4 linked regions of the Homo sapiens genome follow. The protein of the gene in region 3 interacts with the protein of the main gene of each other region in a pairwise test. Each region holds a gene or a part of one and is shown on either strand. Other genes may lie near its edges.

Region 1 (5,345 bases), on a different chromosome or scaffold from region 3:
AAACCCATACACTGCCCAGGACCCCTGGCCCCCTGAGGCCCACCATGCATGCCGGTGCTGCACCGCACAGGTATAGATCTTTCCTTCGGGTGCTGTGTACACAGAACCCCTCGAATCGAAAGTTACCCCCTCCAATAAGCCCTCCTACACCCTGAAAGATATGAGTCATCTCACGCCCAAGCCTCTCCCCCTCATACTCAGGTCCCGTTCACCGGCCCAGATTCCTCAACCCACACAAATCACACACACCCACAGTCGGAATTCAGATCCCCCCAGGCGCCTGCGCACACACACGCGCACAAAACACCTGCCACCCGGAGACATTTTCCACCCCGTCCCCCAGAACGCAGCCACTGCGCCCTTGCGGCCTTGCTTGCTCTCCACTGGCCAAGGACTCTGAATCTCCACCAGGCCTGTAAACGGGGAGCTCAGATGACAGAGGCAGTGGTGTGCTTCGTTTCCATTTTAAACACACGTTTATGCTGTTAGTGCCCTTTTAGGGAGAAAAATCCCTCATCTCAACAAAATAAACTACCATGGGGCGTATGCTTTGTGCTTGGCTATGACTATGACTATGCAACAAGTAATTTCTTTTTCAAATGAGTGCCCAGGTTAGAAGGAATCAGGTTCATTGGTGCGGAGATTATGCCAACAGAAACTCATTTCAGAAACAAGAAGCAAGCCCTGAGCAGTTGGAGACGAAAGCGTTTTCTCCGAGATTCTCTTTCCGCTACTTCGGGGGGCGGGTGGTGAAAGGCTCCGTAAGGTGAAAAGAGAAAGGAAGAAGCAAACAGCTATTTTTTTGTTGCCAGTTATAGCTGAGAAACAAATGTGGCTGAAGGGCACCCCTACCCACGTTGGCCGTGAGGCCGTTTGATGGGCTTTGTGTGAGGAATCCTGAGATGAGCTGGCCGGGGAGTGAGGACCGGCACCCGCCTACAGCAGCGATCTGGAGTAGTGAGTGAGCAGCCCCAGCTGACACAGAGAAGGAGAGAGAGAACTCTGACCCCTTCTCTTCTGAGGACACCCAGCCGGAGAGAGCAAGAAGGGGTGGAGTGTGGGGGTGGGGGCAGGAGCCTCTGCTGTTCCTTTCCAAGACTTTTTCTTCCTGTTTTCCCCAAGCCTCCACAACTCTAAATATGACGAGCTCTCAACTGTGAGCTAATAATGTTGAATGTAACGCCCTTTGTGTCCTTAGATGACAAAAAGACTTGTGAGTACTAGAGGAGAGGGTGATGTTGGTGTGAATTTTCCACATTGGTCCGTGTCTCCGTGGACTGGCCGCTTCCCCCGCTGGTAGCTTCATGGCTGTGAGAGGCCATGCGGTGGATGGAGCCACCGCTGCACTGGGGTCCTGGCTCGAACTTGAGTAAGGTGCTGTCTTCCAAGTCTGGAGAGGAGAGGAGGAGAGAAGAGAGGCAGTCCCTTCAGCACCTTGGAGAGCGCTCCCGGCTGCCTGCCTGGGTTGGGTGGACGGCTGGACTCACTTTCGCTCTAGGCATCCTCTTCAAGCCAAACCATCTCTCCTTGCCAGTGACCGCCTGGTCCCGGACCCTCCAGCACACTCAACCACCAGAAGTGTGCCTATGCCTGTGCCAGATGTGGGGGCCACGCCTGCGATCCCAACACTTTGGGAGGCCGAGATGGGAGGTTCACTTGAGCCCAGGAGTTTGAGACCAGCCTGGGCAACATTGTGAGACCCCCGTCTCTACAAAAAATACAAAAATTAGCCAGGTGTGGTGCTGCACGCCTGTGGTCCCACCACTCAGGAGGCTGAGGTGAGAGGATCGCTTGAGCCCCGGAGGTCAAGGCTGCAGTGAGCCAAGATGGTGCCACTGCACTCCAGCCTGCTGACAGAGCCAGACCCCATCTCAAAAGAAAAAGAAGAAGTGTGCCTGGTCCTACTCAGTCGGTGCATGGATTCCATGCTCCAGGAAGGGCTGCCACTTGGCATGCCTGCCTATGTTTTCACCCCTACCCTGTCAGTCCTTCCTGAAGAAGTGAGTGTCTTCTGAGGTAACATCCTCTGCTGGTCAACTGGGAGAGCAGCTCCCAGCTTGTGGAGGTGGGTTTGGGGGTGAGACTTTATTTTTTTGTTTTTATTTATTTATTTATCTGTTTTGAGATGGAGTCTCACCCTGTAGCCCAAGGTGGAGTGCAGTGGAGTGATCTTGGCTCATTGCAACCTCTGCCTCCTGGGCTCAAGTCATTCTCATGCCTCAGCCTCCCGAGTAGCTGGGATTACAGGCATACACCACCACACCTGGCTAATGTTTTGGGTTTTAGTAGAGACAGTGTTTTGCCATGTTGGCCAGGCTGGTCTTGAACTGAACTCAGGCGATCTGCGTGCCTCGGCCTCCCAAAGTGTTGGGATTACAGGTGTGAGCCACTGTGCCCGGCCTAGGGTGAGACTTTAGTAAGATGTATAGAAGTTGCTCTGAAGTCTAAGGTGTATTCCTGCCATAGGATATGTGTGTTCACTTCTCTTGGAGCATAACAGGGGTCATAGGTGCACAGCCGAAGGCAGGCAGAGGAATGATTTGTCTGTACCAGTCAGTGAAACTGTTTCACCACCATTCTCTTTACATCTGCCTCAATGGGTGAGTCCTCTAGACCAATGGTCCCCAACCTTTTTGGCACCAGGGACCTGTTTCATGGAAGACAATTTTTCTACCGCCCAGGGTTGAGGGATGGTTTTGGGATGATTCAGGCGCATTCTATTTATTGTGTGCTTTATTTCTATTATTATTACATTGTAATATATAGTGAAGTAATAATACAACTCACCATCATGTAGAATCAGTGGGAGCCCTGAGTTTGTTTTCCTACAACTAGACGGTCTCATCTGGGGGTGATGGGAGATAGTGACAGATCATCGGACATTAGATTATCATAAGGAGTGTGCAAACTAGGTCCCTGGCATGAGCAGTTTCCAGTAGGCTCTGCATTCCTATGAGAATCTAATGCTGCTGCTGATCTCACAGGAGGCAGAGCTCAGGCAGTAATGCAAGCGTTGGAGAGCGGCTGTAAATACAGACGAAGCTTCACTTGCTTGCTTACTCACTCGCCACTCACCTCCTGCTGTGTGGCTGGGTTCCTAACAGGCAACGAACCAGTACCAGCCACATTTCACGGGCTCAACAGCCACCTGGGACTAGTCGCCACCATATTGGACAATGTAAATCCAGAACATTCCATCAGTGCAGAAAGCTTTATTGGGCAGGCAGCACTGGTCTGGAGTGTAAGTTCCATATGGGAAGCGGTTTGTGTCCATGCTGGTCACTGCCATGTGCCCAGTGACTAAAATGGTGCTGGCACGTGGTGGTCAATAAATATTTGTGGAATGAATGACCTGTGCAAGTAAATGCGGTAGTATTTGGTAATTTTGTTTACCGTCATTATTTCGTATGCCTGTTTCATTGCAAGACCTTAGAATTGGACGTAGTTAAAGGAAAGTTTTTCCGTGAGACCCTCATGTCCACAGGTCAGTCTCCCTTTACAATTAGCATTAAAACATGCCTGTTCTAATTCCTTGATCAGTTTTGTTTTGTGGTTGGCTTTGTCATTGCTCCTTAAGAGACTGCCAGTGTTTCATATGAGAAAGATGATGGTGTTGAATGCAGTGAATAATGGAGCGATACCAGCAGTCATGACTGGGAGGCATTTTTGGACCACGATTTAATGAGTAGCATTCATTGCAAAGTGCAAAGAAAGGCCCATGGAAAGATGAGTACCCTCCAGTCTGCTTAATTCCTCACTATCTTTTTACTGCTCCCTTTTCCTTGGCTTGATTCGTTCAGTCATTGGAGAAGCATTTGCCAAGTTCAGACCGTGTTCAAGGCACAAAGACAGAAAAGCTCAGGTCCAACCTCAGTGAATCAGCCTTAAGTATTTGCTGAGCATTGAGTATGTACGCAGTACAGAGTTTGTGGTAACGTGGAAGATTGGAAAAAAAGAAACAAACACATAAAAATGAAAATGCAAGAAATAGGATGTCCTATGTTCTACCAGGAAGAATAAGGAGTCTGAACAGGGATGCAAAACCGAGATATATGGAATAATTCAGGGTTTCTCATGCCACAGTGGGGGTCCTGAATGGGAGCACCACAGGGCAGGGACCTGAGGAGGGGCAGGGCAGGTGTGTGTGTCCCTGAAGGAGCGGCAGAGGCTTCTGGGGGTAGGCAGTGCCTGAGTTGAGTCTGGAAGGGCAGTAGGGTGAGAGTTGTTATCCCAAGCCTGAGGCTGCAGATTTGTTCGAGGCCATGTCTCCCTCAGCCTCAGCTTCCCCATCTCTATGATTTAGTCATGACATTTTTTTCCTTCTCAACATGTGCCATCTCCCTCCTACCTATGAATGTCACGGGTATTGTTCTGGACCCAGGGAAGGCTCGCTGGTGCAAATGCTTTCCAAAAACACCGAGAGTCGCTCTCTCTGCTGCTGGTGGAGTCTGAGTTGGGCAGGACATGGGCCCGCCTCTGTCTGCTGCTCTATGCCAGTGCTTCCCAAGCCTGAGTGTTACAAGAACCACCTGGAAGGTGTGTCAAGACACAGATTTCCAGCCCCACCCCTGAGTCTCTGGGCCTGGGATGCCACCCAAGAATTTATATTTCTTACAAATTTCAGGCGATGCTGAGGCTGCTGATCTGGGGACCTCACATTAAGAACCACAGTCCTGGGCTTGTGCCTCCTAAGCCTGGCTACACATTCGAGTCACTAAGAATGTCCCTGGGAGACGGTTAGAAATGCAGCGTGTCAGGCCTGCCTGACCTCCAGGGTCAGGATGTGTGTTTGGAGATGCTCAGGTGGCTGCAGTGCAGGAGATCCTGCTTTGGTGCACTCACTTTAACCCTAGCTGTGCATGAGCTTCATCTAGGTTGCTTTAGAAAATGCAGATGCCCGGGCCCCACCCACAGGTGCTGATTGAGGTCCTCTGGGTACAGCCTGGGCATTGGGATTCTTTTTATTTTAATTTTTTTCAGACGGGGGCTGGCTCCGTCTGTCGTCCTGGCGTGCAATAGTGTGTGATCGTGGCTCACTGCAACCTCTGCCTCCTGGCCTCAAGCCATCTTCCCACCTCAGCCTCCTGAGTAGCTGGGACTGCAGGCATGCACCCCCATGCCCAGCTAAGTTTTGTTATTTGTTGTAGAGATGGGGTTTTGTCGTGTTTCCCAGACTGGTCTCAAACTCCTGAGCTCAAGCGATCCGCCCACCTTGGCCTCCTGAAGTGCTTTTACAGGTGTGAGCAACTTTTTTACAGGATTACAGGTGTGAGCAACTGCACCTGGCCTGAGATTATTTTTTAAACATTCCAGGTGATTCTAACGTTCAGCGCAGGTTGAGGACC
Region 2 (5,345 bases), on a different chromosome or scaffold from region 3:
AAGGAAGGAACAAATGAAGCCGAGGTTTCTGGATGTCACCAAATGAATGTCTCTCTTCACCAGTGTCCTGGAAAAGGTATACACAGACCTTGGTTCTTGGAGAGGACAAGAGGTTCTGATCAGATAATCTGAAGAATCTGAGTCTGAATCAATGCTTCCCAAGGTGTCTCTACACCCAAATCATGCCTCTGCTGTGTTCAAAATTTGCAATGTGGTATATGATCATTTCTTGAAATGTCAAGGAAATTTTAACGGTATTAGTTCCCCCAGGAATGAAACAACTCAAGAAACCTAACTCATGCTAAGGAAATTCTGATTTATTCACTTCCACTGACAAACAATACCACCTAGCAAATTGTGATACTCAATGTGGCAGGTCGACTCTTGCCCAGGACAGAAGTCTACCTGAGAAACAGAAGGAAGATCAGAAGGTAAGAACAGAGCCAGCACCAAAGAGCAAGCAGGATGCTGCCAGGGAGAGGACCCATACCTGTAATCCCAGCACTTTGAGAGGCTGAGGCGGGCAGATCACTTGAGGTCAGGAGTTCGAGACCTGCTTGGCCAAAGTGGTGAAACCCCAGCCTCTACTAAAAATACAAAAATTAGCCGGATACAGTGGCGGGCACCTGTAGTTCCAACTACTTGGGTAGCTGAGGCAGGAAAACTGCTTGAACCTGGAAGGTGGAGGTTGCAGTGAGCCGAGATTAAGCCACTGCATTCCAGCCTGGGCGACCAAGTGAGACTCCGTCTCAAAAAAAAAAAAAAAAAAAAAAAAAAAGGAAATAATTTGTTGTTATTGTTTTGACACTCCTTCTTCACCCCACAATAGCAACCAAAACTAAAGGTGAATAACAGCAATTCCATGAGCAAATCATTCTGAAGCTTCCTCCAGCAATTCAAGGCTCACCCTGGAGGGAATGATACTGCAGAGGTCTGGGCCAAGCTGGCTATTACACAATTCTAGGTTCTATGGCTTTCACCCATCACCATTTCCTAGAATCACTAACTAAGAATTGCTAAAGAGTGTTGTTTTGCCAGAAAGAGGCCTGCATGCAAAGAATCAAATGTCAAGATACATCTTGAGGTTCACCTGCTGAAATTCACACTTCAACCACTTGCCCATTCTGTTCCCTTACACCCTCATCTTTCATCTTGGTGCTTTCCTTGTCATTCTCAAGCTATAATTCAAAAATAGTCACTGGCTCCTAGGGCACTTTCAAAATTAGCTCATTCACAGTTCCTAGGACCTTGGGTGACTCTATATTCCTGGAAAGCCCAGGGGCCCCATCAGCTGACCCACAAACTCCACATGTTGGCCTGGCCTCCATGACTCAACTCAATCCCAAGGGCAGGCCTCCCTGCATCTCAGGCCCAGATTCCCAGACTTACCAATTTCATGGACCATTCAGCGGCTAGATAAAAATATTCCTATCAAATCATAAAAGAATCTTACCCAAAAATGAGAAAGGCATAGTATCAGAGAAAAGGACATATCTTCTTATTTGAACAATTATGACATATTCACTACATCATTATCATCATTGTGATAAGAACAGTGAAAACCACTAACCAACAATAAATGACCTGTGGGGCTAACATTATGCTCTGCATATAGGAGATACTCATTTACTTTTATATTGTGTGGAAACTGAGCTCTGACTTACACGACAGGGACACATCCCATACCTCCAGTAATGCCAGGCCTTCCTTCTTCAACAATGGCATTTCCCTTTACCCTCTGGAATTCCGCAAAGTCTCTCCAATCTATCTCACCCTCTTAAACACACGTTTTTCCTTCTACCTCGATTCCAATATTCTGCATTCTTTTTTTTGAGACAGAGTCTCGCCCTTTCACCCAGGCTGGAGTGCAGTGGCGCGGTCTCAGCTCACAGCAACCTCCACCTCCTGGGTTCAAGCGATTCTCCTGCCTCAGCCTCCTGAGTAGCTGAAATTACAGGCGTGTGCCACCATGCCCGGCTAATTTTTGTATTTTTAGCAGAGACGGGGTTTCACCATGTTGGCCAGGCTGGTCTCAAACTCCCGACCTCAAGTGAGCCACCTGCCTTGGCCTCCGAAAGTGCTAGGATTACAGGCATGAGCCACTGCTCCCGGTTTCTGCATTCTTTTTCATCAACTTAAAAAAAACGACACTCTTCCTCCCACTCTAAGCATTCCTGAAGCATACTTGCCAATGAGTTACACTTCGGGAACTTCAGTTATTACCTAGCAAACAAAGTTTGCAAGATTTCCACAAGAGGAAAAGAGAGGGTAGAACTGGTAAACTTTGTTTATAACCACTGTCAAGTCATTAACCAACAACAAAGAAAAGCTTTAATCCATCCTTTTCTATACCATTCATTTCTTTCCATGTTCTCTTCTCGTATTTGTCCATGTGAATCTGTACATTTTATATATCAATAAATTATATATTGGGATTTTTCTCTGATTATAAAATAAATATACGTCCATTACAGAAAACAAGATAAGATTCAAACACCATGGAAATAAATTATATAGAAAGGGAATATCTCCTGTAACTCTACACACAAAGAGCTCTAATACCTTTAAACTGATCAAGCTTCTTACTTCCTGCCCAGTTGTGTGACTTGACCTTCCACCCTCTATGCCCTTCCTCTCTCCCAGCTCTCATCTAATGTCTGGAGTTAATGACCCACTCCTAACAGGGGTCCAGGAACCCTGGAGCCTGGTTATTAGAGGAACTAGAGTCACTCTCCCTTTATTAAAAATTATTTCAATGGGATAACAACTCCTCACTGACTCACTTAAAGGTTAATGAGGCTGAGTTTTGTGAGCCTCTTGAAAGCAAAATGCACTAAAAACACCAAATGGGATTGGTTTCCTTTGCTCTCTGCCCCATCGCAGCTTGCCAAGAAAAAAGAAAAAAAAGCTCATGATCCTGCTAATGACACTGAGTAGACACATTTCACCAGCCACCACTCCTGCTACTGCAGCAGCCAATCACAGGCATCTGTCCAACACAGTGACAGGGCTAACGTCAAATGAGAGTGAAAGTCGTATTCCAGAGACCAAGGGCTGCATTTCTCATCGAGGCGAGGAGACAAAGGCTGGGACACAGGAAAGGCTTGCCAAAATTTCACAAGGGTGGGCCTGGGAAGCAAAGCACAGGACCCCCTCCCCTGCAGCCTAGGTAGAGGTTTCTTTCTCAGACTATCTGTGTGCTCAAGAGCAGAAAGTCTCCCCGCAGAAAATGCTATGAAGTAGTTTCAAATGTCGAATACACTTTACCCAAATCTAATCATTACCTTATCTGCTAACTAGACTGGCAGGGCCATAAAGTTAATTTTATGACAACCATTTTATAACAAATGAAAACTATAAGGGAAGTAGGAATTGGGCAAAAAAAGAAGGGCATTGGACAAAGCAGTGACAAACCAGACAGGGAAACACAAAATCACCTCCAAATAATGCTCTAAACCAGTGGTCTCCAGACAGCGTTCATGGAAGACAATTTTTCCACGGATGGGGTTGGGGATTGGGATGAAACTGTTCCAACTCAGATCAACAAGCAGTAGATTCTCATAGGGAGTGCACAACCAAGATCCCACACATGTGCAGTTCACAACAGGGTTCACAGTCCTGTGAGAATCAAATGCCACCACTGATCTGACAGAGGTGGAGCTCAGGTGGTAAAGGTCACTTGCCCGCCGCTCACCTCCTGCTCTATGGCCCGGTTCCTAATAGGCCACTGACCAGTTCAGGTCCGAAGCAGGGGGCTGGGGACCCCTGCTCTTAAACGAAGACCTCTCTCCTCGAATGGCTGCATCACAGATCTCTAGACTGGGACAAGAAGGACCCGATAGACAACCAGAGGGTGACTGCAGCTCTCTCATTTTACAGATGGGAAAACAGGCCCAGAGACATAACTGACTTTTTCCAGGTAACACAGTGAATTGAAGTAAGGGACAAGCCAGCCCCAAAGGCAAGTCTTTGGGGTCCCTGGTTAGTAGTCTTTCCTCCAAATCCCCCCAGACCCTTTATTATGGAGAGTCTGTTACTCTGCCTCTGACAAACCATTTCGGCTGAGAGAAATGCCGTCAACACATATCAGCATGCAGAATATGCACTAATAACACATTAAAATCAAAATGGCTAATCTGGGTTTATCTTCTGACATCTAATTTCATTTGTTGGTAGTGCAACATTATTGAAAATAAATGAACACAAAACAGTTTTAAAATCTGGATAGAACCTTCTTGAAAACATTCAAATCATTCTGAAGATATGCAGTTCCAATCAAATTTAATTCTAAATAACAAATCAAAGATGCTTTAAAAGAGAATGCTTACTGAATAATAATGGAATCAATTAAAGATATTTTCATATAAGATAAAAGTTTAAAGCTCTATTGCTGTGAAATCACGAGCATCTACCTTTTCAGAGGGGTTTTCTTAGACAGCTGACATTTATGCATAGATGCTTACAGCATAAGATGATATATACAAAACCTTAATAGGATAATAGGACACATAAAAAGCACTGAACAGACCAGGCGTGATGGCTCACGCCTGTAATCCCAGCACTTTGGGAGACCGAGACTGGTGGACCTCCTGAGGTCAGGACTTGGAGACCAGCCTGGCCAACATGGTGAAACCCCATTTCTACTAAAATTACAAAAATTAGCCAGGCGTGGTGGCGGGCACCTGGAATCCCAGCTACTCAGGAGGCTGAGGCAGGAGAATTACTTGAACCTGGGAGGTGGAGGTTACAGTGAGCCAAGATCGCGCCACTACACTCCAGCCTGGGTGACAGACTGAAACTCTGTCTCAAAAATAATAATAATAATAATAATACTAGGCACTGAACAAATGCTGGTTTCCTAACCCCATGTAGGAAAATAAGTATTCCCCCCATAACCAGTAATAACTTATTACAATATTTTCCTAAAAGTCTGTCCCACCTGCTCCCCTCCCCCGCCCCCGGAAAACTTAAGGTGTTATATCACAAGGGTATTGTCCAGTTTTGTTTTGTTATTTATTTACTTATTTATTTATTTTATTTATGTATTTATTTTGAGACGGAGTCTCACCCTTTTGCCCAGGCTGGAGTGCAGTGGCGCGATCTTGGCTCACTGTAACCTCCACCTCCCAGGTTCAAGTGATTCTCCTGCCTCAGCTTTCCCAGTAGCTGGGATTACAGGCGGGAGCCACCACACCCGGCTAATTTTTGTATTTTTTTAGAGACGGGGGTTTTACCTCTTGGCCAGGCTGGTCTCAAACTCCTGACCTCAAGTGATCTGCCCGCCTCAGCTTCCCAAAGTGCTGTGATTATAGGTGTTAGCCACCGTACCCGGCCAGGTATTGTCT
Region 3 (5,345 bases):
GCTCACATGCCTGGGCAGGCCCTGAGAGAGGCGACAGTCATGAGGACTCTGGATCTGAGAGGCCTGATTTGGAAACCAGCTCGGCTGCCTCCAGACGACGGGACACTGGACAAGATCTGCCCCTCTATGTGGGTTCCTCATCTGGAAGGTGAGGACAGTGATGAACTCAATGTAATTCCCCACAGAGCACCCTCCAGGCATCAGCAGCAGCGACGATGGTGCGGACAGTCACAGTGGACGAGGCACTGACCCCACTCATGACCCCGGGGCTGGCACCACCCAAAGCCAGGCCCATTGGAAGGAGGTGGCAGCGCAGGGAGATGCCACCTGCAGAGTTGGGCTGGCCTAGGCCAGTTTCTTCTCAGGGTCTTGGTTCCTTACCCAAAAAATGGCCTATTTCATGGCAAAGTTGTGAGGATGGGGAGGATAAAACAAAGTACTTGGCACAAAGACAGGAAACCCGCTTTCCTCCCTGGTTGTTCTGAGGCTTGAGCAGGACAAATGCCAACCACCTAGTCCAATGCCCCTGCCGCTGGTGGGGTCAACAGGTCCCAGGAGAGTCTGGCTCATTTCAAGCTGAGCCAAGTCCTGAAGCCCAAGCCAGGGCCTCTGGCTCACCAGCCCCCACAAAATGACTGGTTTAGCTTCCAGAAAATGCCAGCAAGTCTCCAAAGCATGCTTTAGGGAGGCTTCCACCTCTCAATGGGCCCTCCACTCTCCTCTCGCTCCCTCCAGAAGCCCACGCTAGGAGCCCGCTCCCTGCTAACCATAACACAGTCACACTGTGCAACATCCTGTCCCACATCCCAGGAGCTACAGACATGCCCACCACCTGATCTAGTGGTCGGAGATCAGGAGGGACCACTAGGGCCACTTCCCCCTAGATGCAGGACACTGGAAAGAGCTGCCCCCACACTAACAGGGAGAGGTCAGATAAAATACAAGATCCTAGTTTCACTCAACCAAGATGGGCCCTTCCACAGAGTGGCAGGAGGCAAGCACCAGCTCACTTGAGACAGGGCCCTGGAGGAAGAGAAGCCAGCCCATGCAGGTGGCGAGAGGAATTCAGGTAAAATGTTTCCATGCTGGTAAAAGCCAAGGGTGAGCCCATGTGACAGCACAGAACCTCTGAAGCCAGAGAAGCCAGAGAATCTCACACTGAGCAGAGTTCACACCCAAACACAGGCTCTTCTCCAGACCTAGGCCAGGTGCTCAGGAGAAAGAGTTGGGGGCAGCATGCTTTGGAGAGAGCCTTCCTCAGTATCATGGCTGTAGGAAAAGAAAAACATCCTACTTGTACCCTTCTCCCTTACAGAAAAAAGGCTTTAAGTCACTGAGAGAGGGGCAGCAAACCGTGTCACCTCCCAGGGCACTGGTGAAGACCCAATGTGGCTGGAGATGGGCAAAAGGAAAAACCAAGACTCTGCCCTTGGGGGAGGGGCAGGAAACTGTCCCTGGGCCCTGACTACTAGAGATTCTCAGTGCTACAGAAGGGACATGAAACTCCTGCACAAGAGTTACCATCCAGGCAGTTTGGCTGCCACTCAGAGGAGGGCAGGATCAATGAAAAAGCCCTACCCAGACCCAGCAACATGGAGCCTGCAGAAGACTGCAGCTAGACAACACAACAGAGAACCCCAAACCCTCCCTACCAAGCTACTAAACCAAAGTAACAGATAACAGCAGAGTCGATCACTGGCACAGGGGCAAGAGTGTGCAGACAAAACTCCTCCAAGGTTCAGACCTACGAGGAAGACCAAAAGGTGGAGGTGGAGCAGGAACACTGAGAAAAAACCTCTGGAAACTCAGCCCCTCCACTGAACGCAAGCTAACACTACAATAATATGAAACCAGTGGTCACTCAAGGTAATCAGATCAACACCCGAACCCAAACCAGACCAACGAGGCGGGGTTAACTCAATTCCTTATACTAATGGCCTAGCAGTTGAAAAGCCGGCCTCATTTGCAAGCATAAATATGGCTGACCTTAGTCTCTACTATCTAATATGCTGTGTTGAGCAGTCAAAAGGTACTATTCACAAAAAAGGCACACGCGCACACACACAAACAAAACTGTCAAGAGACAAAGCAATCAACAGAATTAGACTCATGGAATTTTTAAGAAGTCTGATTAACATGTTAAAGGTTCCCAAGGAAAAGATGGACAACACACATGAATAGATGGGATTATTTCAGCAGAGAAATGGAAACTCTAAGTGGAAATGCTAGAGGGAAAAAAACATAACAGAAACATTGAATGCTTCTGACAGCTCATCAGCAGACTTGACACAGCAGAAGAAAGGAGCAGTTAGCCACAGATCGGTCCACAGAGATTACCCAAACTGGAACAAAAAGAGAAAAAGAAAGAAGCCAGGTGCAGCAGTATGCCTGCAGACCCAGCTACTCAGGAGGCTGAGGAAAGAGGACTGCTTAAGCCCAGGAATTCTAGGCCAGTCTGAGCAGCACAGTGAGATCCTGTCTCAAAAAAAAAAAAAAAAAAAAAGGAAAGAAAAAAGAGGGAAGAAAACAGAAAACAGAATACAACATCCAAGAGCTGGAGGACAACATCAAACAATCTAACATATATGTAATTGGAATCTCAAAGGAAGAAAGAATGAGGTAAAAGAAACATTTTCTAAGATAATGGCTGAGAATTTTTCCAAAATAATGAAAAGCATCAAACCACAGATCCAAGAGGCTTAGAGGAATCCCAAGTAGAATAATTAACACACACATACAAAAACCCTAGACATACCATATTCAAAGTGCTGAAAATCAAAGACAAAGAGAAAACATTGAAGGCAGCCAGAGGAAAACAGGCACATTACCCAGTGGAAAAAAGAACAAGCCAACATTTCAGCAGAAGCTAAACAAGCCAAGGCCTGGCATAGCAGCTCACGCCTGTAATCTCAGCACTTTGGGAGGCCGAGGTAAGAGGATCATTTGAGCCCATGAGTCCAAGACCAGCCTAGGCAACATGGTGAGACCCTATCTCTACAAAAATACAAAAAATTAGCCAGGTGTGGTGGCGCACACCTGCAGTCCTAGCTACTTGGGAGGCTGAGGCAGGAGGATTGCTTGAGCCCAGGAGGTGGAGGCTGCAGTGAGCCATGATTGCATCACTGCACTCCAGCCTGGGCAATAGAGTAAGATCCTGTCTCAAAAAAAAAAAAAAAAAAGGAAAGAAAGAAAAAAAAAGAAAGAAAGAAAAGAAACTATGGCCAAGCACTGTGACTCACACCTGTAATCCCAGTACTTTGGGAGGCCAAGGCAAAAGAAACTATGGCCAGCCATGGTGGCTCACACCCATAATCCCAGGACTTTGGGAGGCCAAGGCAGGAGGATTATTTAAGCCCAGGAGTTCAAACCAACTACAAGTTCAACCAGGGCCAACTACTCAGGAGGCTGTGCTCCCAGCAGCCCCATCTCCTTCTTCCTCCAGAAGTCATTCTGCAGGCTTTTGCCTCCCAGCCCGGTTGAGTGATGGGGAGAAACGTGACCCCCGCAGACCCAGGACACTTGCTTTGGCAGCCCCTTCCCCAGGTCAAGCCTCCTGAGTATGTGTAACAGCCGGAAGACAAAGGGGAAGGGATGAGGGAGCAAGAGGAGAAAGATGGGGAAAGAGGAACTTCTCAGTTCTTCTGGTACAAAACCACACGTTCCATTCTTCAGGCCTCTGCATTCCCTCATAGGACGCAGGTAACTCACCACACTGCTGTGGAACACTTTGTTACCCTGTGTGGTAAAGCTCAAAGGGCTCCGCATGCTCCCTCATCTCAGAACAAACTGGTAACCCAGGAAGCGCTGGCAGGTGCTAGCTCCCACCCCCACGCCTCTCTTACCCCCTCCTGTGGGTGGTTTCTCTCCAGGATCTACACTCGGTGCTGCCACTACCCCAGCCCTTTGTCCTCCCTAGGCCCTCATTTTCACATCTATAAAAAGGAAATAATCACAAGAGCACAGGGCCGTCCTGAGAATCAAAGTGGGTGGAGGGCAAAACAGCATCTGTAATGGGTAATCCACCCAACCTGTCTCCTCCTCCATGCAGTCTCCCGAGATCCTCCTCTTCAGAACCCTCATTACCAGGCCATTTACCTGACCCTGAGAACAGCCACCCTGGCTTGTCAGTTAACTTTTCAGTGTTAGGATTCTGGCTTCCCCCATGTCACTGCAAGTGCCACAAGGTCACCATCACCTCATGCCCAGCCCTTCTGAAACCTGTCTCTCCCAGGCACAGTGACATACACACCAAGAAAACTAGGACATCCATCTAGCCTGGGACCTGCACACCATGAGTCTCCCCTCAGCTTCAGCTCCCCTCAGCTTCAACCCCTGAGTTGTCTGAAAATGTAAGACTTAAATGAATCAATCTGGTCAAATCCTCTCATTTTTAATGAGCAAACTGAGGTTCAAAGAAACCAGGTGGCTCACCCACGCCCAGGCCCAGAAGCTTCCGTCTGCATCAGTGAGAATGCGCACACACTTCAGGACTGGCCGGAACCAGGGGCAAAATAAACTCAGGGCAGTGGGTGCTCTGGCTGAGCCAGGGACCGTATTTCAAAGCCCAAGCTCCATGACTTTGGGGCTGTGCCCCCTCGGGGACGAGCACCCAATTCAAATCAACCTGTTGACAAAACCAGTGGCAGTGATTGCATCAAACCAACACACAGGGACAAAATATTTTCACAGACACAATCGGATTTAATACAACCACCGTCCCAGGACCAACTACGCTGTAAGAATGAATAGGAACAAAGTCGGTCATCAACAGAAAGGTCCTTCTCAGAAGACACAATGGGCTCCTACTGTCTGGATCACGGTTTTACCTGGCGCTGTGCAGCAGAACTTTCAGCTGTGATGGGAACACTCCATATCTGCGCCACCCAATACGGCAGCCGCTAGCCCCATGTGGCTACTGAGCACCTGAAACATGGTGATGCTACTGAGGAACAGAATTTCCACTTTTATTTCATTTTAATTCATTAGATGTAAGCAGCCGCCTGTGGGCAGAGGGTCCTACGCTGGAGAGCACAGTCCTAACCCGCCATCTAAGCTAGAATGTCGCAAGCACAAAAAGAATCCGAGCAAGCAGCACGGGGTTGTGGGAAAAAATACCGGACAGGAAGCGAAGGCAGGATCTAATTATCATTGCCTTAGCCACCAGAAAGCCCCCACCACCCCTTTGAACCCCAGTTTCTCCATCAGCAGAGGGTGGGAAGGGGCTGACAAGGGACCAGGCCCTTCCGGCTCTGACCACCTGCAAGTTCATTAGGATCTCCTACACCTGGGCACTGGAAATCCAAGGAGGCCCGTGGGTTCCCTGCCATGGCAGGTGAATGGGGCAC
Region 4 (5,345 bases), on a different chromosome or scaffold from region 3:
ATTTAAGGGCCCACCAGAAGCAGGCCTCGAGGAGTCAATTTGCCTCTGTGTGCCTCAGTGGAGACAAGTGGGAAAACATGGTCCCACCTGTGCGAGACCCCCTGTCCTGTGCTGCTCACTCAACAACATCTTTGTGTTGCTTTCACCAGGCTGAGACCCTACCCTATGGGGTATATGGGCTTTTACCTGTGCACCAGTGTGACAGGAAAGATTCATGTCACTACTGTCCGTGGCTACAATTCAAAGGTATCCAATGTCGCTGTAAATTTTATGGCACTATTTTTATTGGAGGATTTGGTCAGAATGCAGTTGTTGTACAACTCATAAATACTAACTGCTGATTTTGACACATGTGTGCTCCAAATGATCTGGTGGTTATTTAACGTACCTCTTAAAATTCGTTGAAACGATTTCAGGTCAACTCTGAAGAGTATTTGAAAGCAGGACTTCAGAACAGTGTTTGATTTTTATTTTATAAATTTAAGCATTCAAATTAGGCAAATCTTTGGCTGCAGGCAGCAAAAACAGCTGGACTTATTTAAAACAACTTGTTTTTGAGTTTTCTTATATATATATTGATTATTTGTTTTACACACATGCAGTAGCACTTTGGTAAGAGTTAAAGAGTAAAGCAGCTTATGTTGTCAGGTCGTTCTTATCTAGAGAAGAGCTATAGCAGATCTCGGACAAACTCAGAATATATTCACTTTCATTTTTGACAGGATTCCCTCCACAACTCAGTTTCATATATTATTCCGTATTACATTTTTGCAGCTAAATTACCATAAAATGTCAGCAAATGTAAAAATTTAATTTCTGAAAAGCACCATTAGCCCATTTCCCCCAAATTAAACGTAAATGTTTTTTTTCAGCACATGTTACCATGTCTGACCTGCAAAAATGCTGGAGAAAAATGAAGGAAAAAATTATGTTTTTCAGTTTAATTCTGTTAACTGAAGATATTCCAACTCAAAACCAGCCTCATGCTCTGATTAGATAATCTTTTACATTGAACCTTTACTCTCAAAGCCATGTGTGGAGGGGGCTTGTCACTATTGTAGGCTCACTGGATTGGTCATTTAGAGTTTCACAGACTCTTACCAGCATATATAGTATTTAATTGTTTCAAAAAAAATCAAACTGTAGTTGTTTTGGCGATAGGTCTCACGCAACACATTTTTGTATGTGTGTGTGTGTGCGTGTGTGTGTGTGTGTGTGAAAAATTGCATTCATTGACTTCAGGTAGATTAAGGTATCTTTTTATTCATTGCCCTCAGGAAAGTTAAGGTATCAATGAGACCCTTAAGCCAATCATGTAATAACTGCATGTGTCTGGTCCAGGAGAAGTATTGAATAAGCCATTTCTACTGCTTACTCATGTCCCTATTTATGATTTCAACATGGATACATATTTCAGTTCTTTCTTTTTCTCACTATCTGAAAATACATTTCCCTCCCTCTCTTCCCCCCAATATCTCCCTTTTTTTCTCTCTTCCTCTATCTTCCAAACCCCACTTTCTCCCTCCTCCTTTTCCTGTGTTCTCTTAAGCAGATAGCACATACCCCCACCCAGTACCAAATTTCAGAACACAAGAAGGTCCAGTTCTTCCCCCTTCACATAAAGGAACATGGTTTGTCAGCCTTTCTCCTGTTTATGGGTTTCTTCCAGCAGAACAGAGACATTGCCAACCATATTGGATCTGCTTGCTGTCCAAACCAGCAAACTTTCCTGGGCAAATCACAATCAGTGAGTAAATAGACAGCCTTTCTGCTGCCTTGGGTTTCTGTGCAGATAAACAGAAATGCTCTGATTAGAAAGGAAATGAATGGTTCCACTCAAATGTCCTGCAATTTAGGATTGCAGATTTCTGCCTTGAAATACCTGTTTCTTTGGGACATTCCGTCCTGATGATTTTTATTTTTGTTGGTTTTTATTTTTGGGGGGAATGACATGTTTGGGTCTTTTATACATGAAAATTTGTTTGACAATAATCTCACAAAACATATTTTACATCTGAACAAAATGCCTTTTTGTTTACCGTAGCGTATACATTTGTTTTGGGATTTTTGTGTGTTTGTTGGGAATTTTGTTTTTAGCCAGGTCAGTATTGATGAGGCTGATCATTTGGCTCTTTTTTTCCTTCCAGAAGAGTTGCATCAACAAAGTTAATTGTATTTATGTATGTAAATAGATTTTAAGCTTCATTATAAAATATTGTTAATGCCTATAACTTTTTTTCAATTTTTTTGTGTGTGTTTCTAAGGACTTTTTCTTAGGTTTGCTAAATACTGTAGGGAAAAAAATGCTTCTTTCTACTTTGTTTATTTTAGACTTTAAAATGAGCTACTTCTTATTCACTTTTGTAAACAGCTAATAGCATGGTTCCAATTTTTTTTAAGTTCACTTTTTTTGTTCTAGGGGAAATGAATGTGCAAAAAAAGAAAAAGAACTGTTGGTTATTTGTGTTATTCTGGATGTATAAAAATCAATGGAAAAAAATAAACTTTCAAATTGAAATGACGGTATAACACATCTACTGAAAAAGCAACGGGAAATGTGGTCCTATTTAAGCCAGCCCCCACCTAGGGTCTATTTGTGTGGCAGTTATTGGGTTTGGTCACAAAACATCCTGAAAATTCGTGCGTGGGCTTCTTTCTCCCTGGTACAAACGTATGGAATGCTTCTTAAAGGGGAACTGTCAAGCTGGTGTCTTCAGCCAGATGACATGAGAGAATATCCCAGAACCCTCTCTCCAAGGTGTTTCTAGATAGCACAGGAGAGCAGGCACTGCACTGTCCACAGTCCACGGTACACAGTCGGGTGGGCCGCCTCCCCTCTCCTGGGAGCATTCGTCGTGCCCAGCCTGAGCAGGGCAGCTGGACTGCTGCTGTTCAGGAGCCACCAGAGCCTTCCTCTCTTTGTACCACAGTTTCTTCTGTAAATCCAGTGTTACAATCAGTGTGAATGGCAAATAAACAGTTTGACAAGTACATACACCATATCCAATTGGTTTTGTCTTTCTCTGAGATGGAGGGTTGGGAAACTGAGTAAGGCCCACTGCACACACTAGGAAGATACCTCCAGTGAACAGCTTCAGGCTGAAGCTATGTCCTCACCCCCGGTGCTCCTAGCACACTCTGGCTTCTGAAGGCATGAGGGCCTGGAAAAGGCGCAGGCTCCCAGGGTTGCTTCTTTGCATATGAAAGAGCACTGAAGCATGTTTTAATGCTTGTTTTAAAAAATAATAATAGGCCGGCGCGGTGGCTCACGCCTGTAATCCCAGCACGTTGGGAGGCCGAGGCGGGCGGATCATGAGGTCAGGAGATCGCGACCATCCTGGCTAACACGGTGAAACTCTGTCTCTACTAAAAATATAAAAAATTAGCCTGGCGTGGTGGCGGCTGTAGTCCCAACTACTCAGGAGGCTGAGGCAGAAGAATGGCGTGAACCCGGGAGGCGGAAGTTGCAGTGAGCCGAGATCGCGCCACTGCACTCTAGCCTGGGCGACAGAGCGAGACTCCATCTCAAAAATAATAATAATAATAAAGAAACTAAAAAGAGTTACATGACACTAGCCAACCCAAAGTGGAAAGGGCTGTATGTTCAACCTAAGGCCAGGAAGCTTCATCTGCCTTCATTGCTGTACATTGCAGGAATCAGGCTTGGGTAGTGGTTGGGAGTTTTTTAAAAGAAATACTTCTCTCACCACCACCCCAGTGCAAAGTATCTTTAGTATTTTAGTTTCAAGACTCTGGGTTCAACTCAAGGTATCTTCCCACCAAGAATTACTGTCTAAAGTATCTTCCAGTTCTGTCACTGCTGTCTCATGGGACCTCATGACTGATGCTAGAAGAAAATCTTCAGCCGAATCAAGTTTAAAGGAGTTTAACTGAGCAATGAACAATTTGTGAATCGGGCAGCCCCCAGGAACACAGCAGATTCACGGAGACTCCAGGGGTGCCTCGTGGTCAGAACAAATTTATAGACCAAACAGGTAGAGTGATGTACAAGAATCGGAAGTGAGGTACAGATACAGTGAGATTGGTTACAGCTTGGCGTTTGCCTTATTTGAACGCAGTTTGAACATTCAGGAGTCTATGAGTGGTTGAATTATGACCACTGGGATTGGCCAACCCTTAGCTATTGTTACAGGTGCATACTATTAAGTTAGGTTTTTAATTTTGTCTGACCATTAAGCTAGGTTACAGTTCATCCACAGGACTCAAATATAGAAATATGGAGTCCTTCTCAGGCCATATTTAGTTTGCTTTAACATTGATCTTAAATGGTCTGCAGGAGGACCACAAAAAATGTCAGGAACCAAAGTGGGGTCAGCAAGAAAGGATGTGACCTAGAAGTCACCGCTCCTGAGCACAGGTAGGAAACAGGGGTAGGATCAGGCAGTACATGGACATGGCCATGCACAAAGAAGAAGAAAACAGAAGCTTGTCAGTGAGATGCTTGATTACCACGTCTCTAGCCAGTCGTTAAACTAAACTTTAGTGTCAGAGAGATTTTGTACCTTCTGAAGAGCTCAAGTTATTTCAGAGGAGAAACCTAGGCCTGAAGAAGAAAACAACAAACATTTGTGCCTTGATGTTGACCTTGATCGCCTGGCTGAAGTAGCGTTTGTTATATCTCTCTTCCAGAATGTTACCCTTTTATCTCCCCCGACTTTTCACTGTCCCCTTTGGAAGGAAGTCACGATGCACAGCCCCACTTAGGGAATGTGGAGCTATGCTCTCGTTTCCTTCAGGAGGCAGGAGTCCTTGGCTGAGGACACCAGGACACCCCCCACCCAGTGGCCTCATGCCTCATGGGAAACAGAGCCCAGGTGTCCTCCGTGTGAAGGCTCTCTCTGCTCCAGAGAGGACAGGTAGCTCCTCCCCCTGCTAAGGTGCACCAATGCCTACCCCCACCCCTCCAGCCTAGAGGATCCAAAAGTTCAGAATGTTCAGGGTTCTAGAAGCAGCTCCACATTGCCCACTTTGGGCTGTCTTTGTATAAGGCCAAGCTTTCCCACCCACACTCCACCCACCCTCCAATAATGTAGACAAAGTCCCCACCAGAGTTTCCCAATGTGGCTCAGGATTCTAAGAAGTCACCACCATTTCTTGGGGGTCGGGGGAAAGAACTGGCTGGGGTTTATCTTATAACCTCACAGAATTCCCCACATCTTTATTCAAAATGAGCCCACCCTGTGGTCATGACGATGCTTACCTGGGTTCCCAGAATCCTAAATCCCAGAATCTAAAGGGAACTCACAGATGAATAAATGCAATCCTCCCTCAGATGTATAAATACCTCTCCCCACCCCTTGGGGTTTCTCCACAGATAGTTTTGC

The links.
Region 1: the proteins of SULT4A1 (region 3) and JPH3 interact in binary tests that used the Homo sapiens proteins (3 or more experiments, as listed by UniProt).
Region 2: the proteins of SULT4A1 (region 3) and APBB2 interact in binary tests that used the Homo sapiens proteins (3 or more experiments, as listed by UniProt).
Region 4: the proteins of SULT4A1 (region 3) and RUNX1 interact in a two-hybrid assay, tested with the Homo sapiens proteins (one large-scale study listed by BioGRID and IntAct).

The regions. Positions count from the first base shown.
Region 1 is NC_000016.10:87,607,163-87,612,507, forward strand, and holds part of JPH3 (junctophilin-3), read left to right. Parts: intron 1-5,345. UniProt on the Homo sapiens protein: Junctophilins contribute to the formation of junctional membrane complexes (JMCs) which link the plasma membrane with the endoplasmic or sarcoplasmic reticulum in excitable cells.
Region 2 is NC_000004.12:41,206,448-41,211,792, forward strand, and holds part of APBB2 (amyloid beta precursor protein binding family B member 2), read right to left. Parts: intron 1-5,345. UniProt on the Homo sapiens protein: Plays a role in the maintenance of lens transparency, and may also play a role in muscle cell strength. Involved in hippocampal neurite branching and neuromuscular junction formation, as a result plays a role in spatial memory functioning.
Region 3 is NC_000022.11:43,854,889-43,860,233, forward strand, and holds part of SULT4A1 (sulfotransferase 4A1), read right to left. Parts: intron 1-5,345. UniProt on the Homo sapiens protein: Atypical sulfotransferase family member with very low affinity for 3'-phospho-5'-adenylyl sulfate (PAPS) and very low catalytic activity towards L-triiodothyronine, thyroxine, estrone, p-nitrophenol, 2-naphthylamine, and 2-beta-naphthol.
Region 4 is NC_000021.9:34,785,458-34,790,802, reverse strand, and holds the end of RUNX1 (runt-related transcription factor 1), read left to right. Parts: 3' UTR 1-3,002; downstream 3,003-5,345.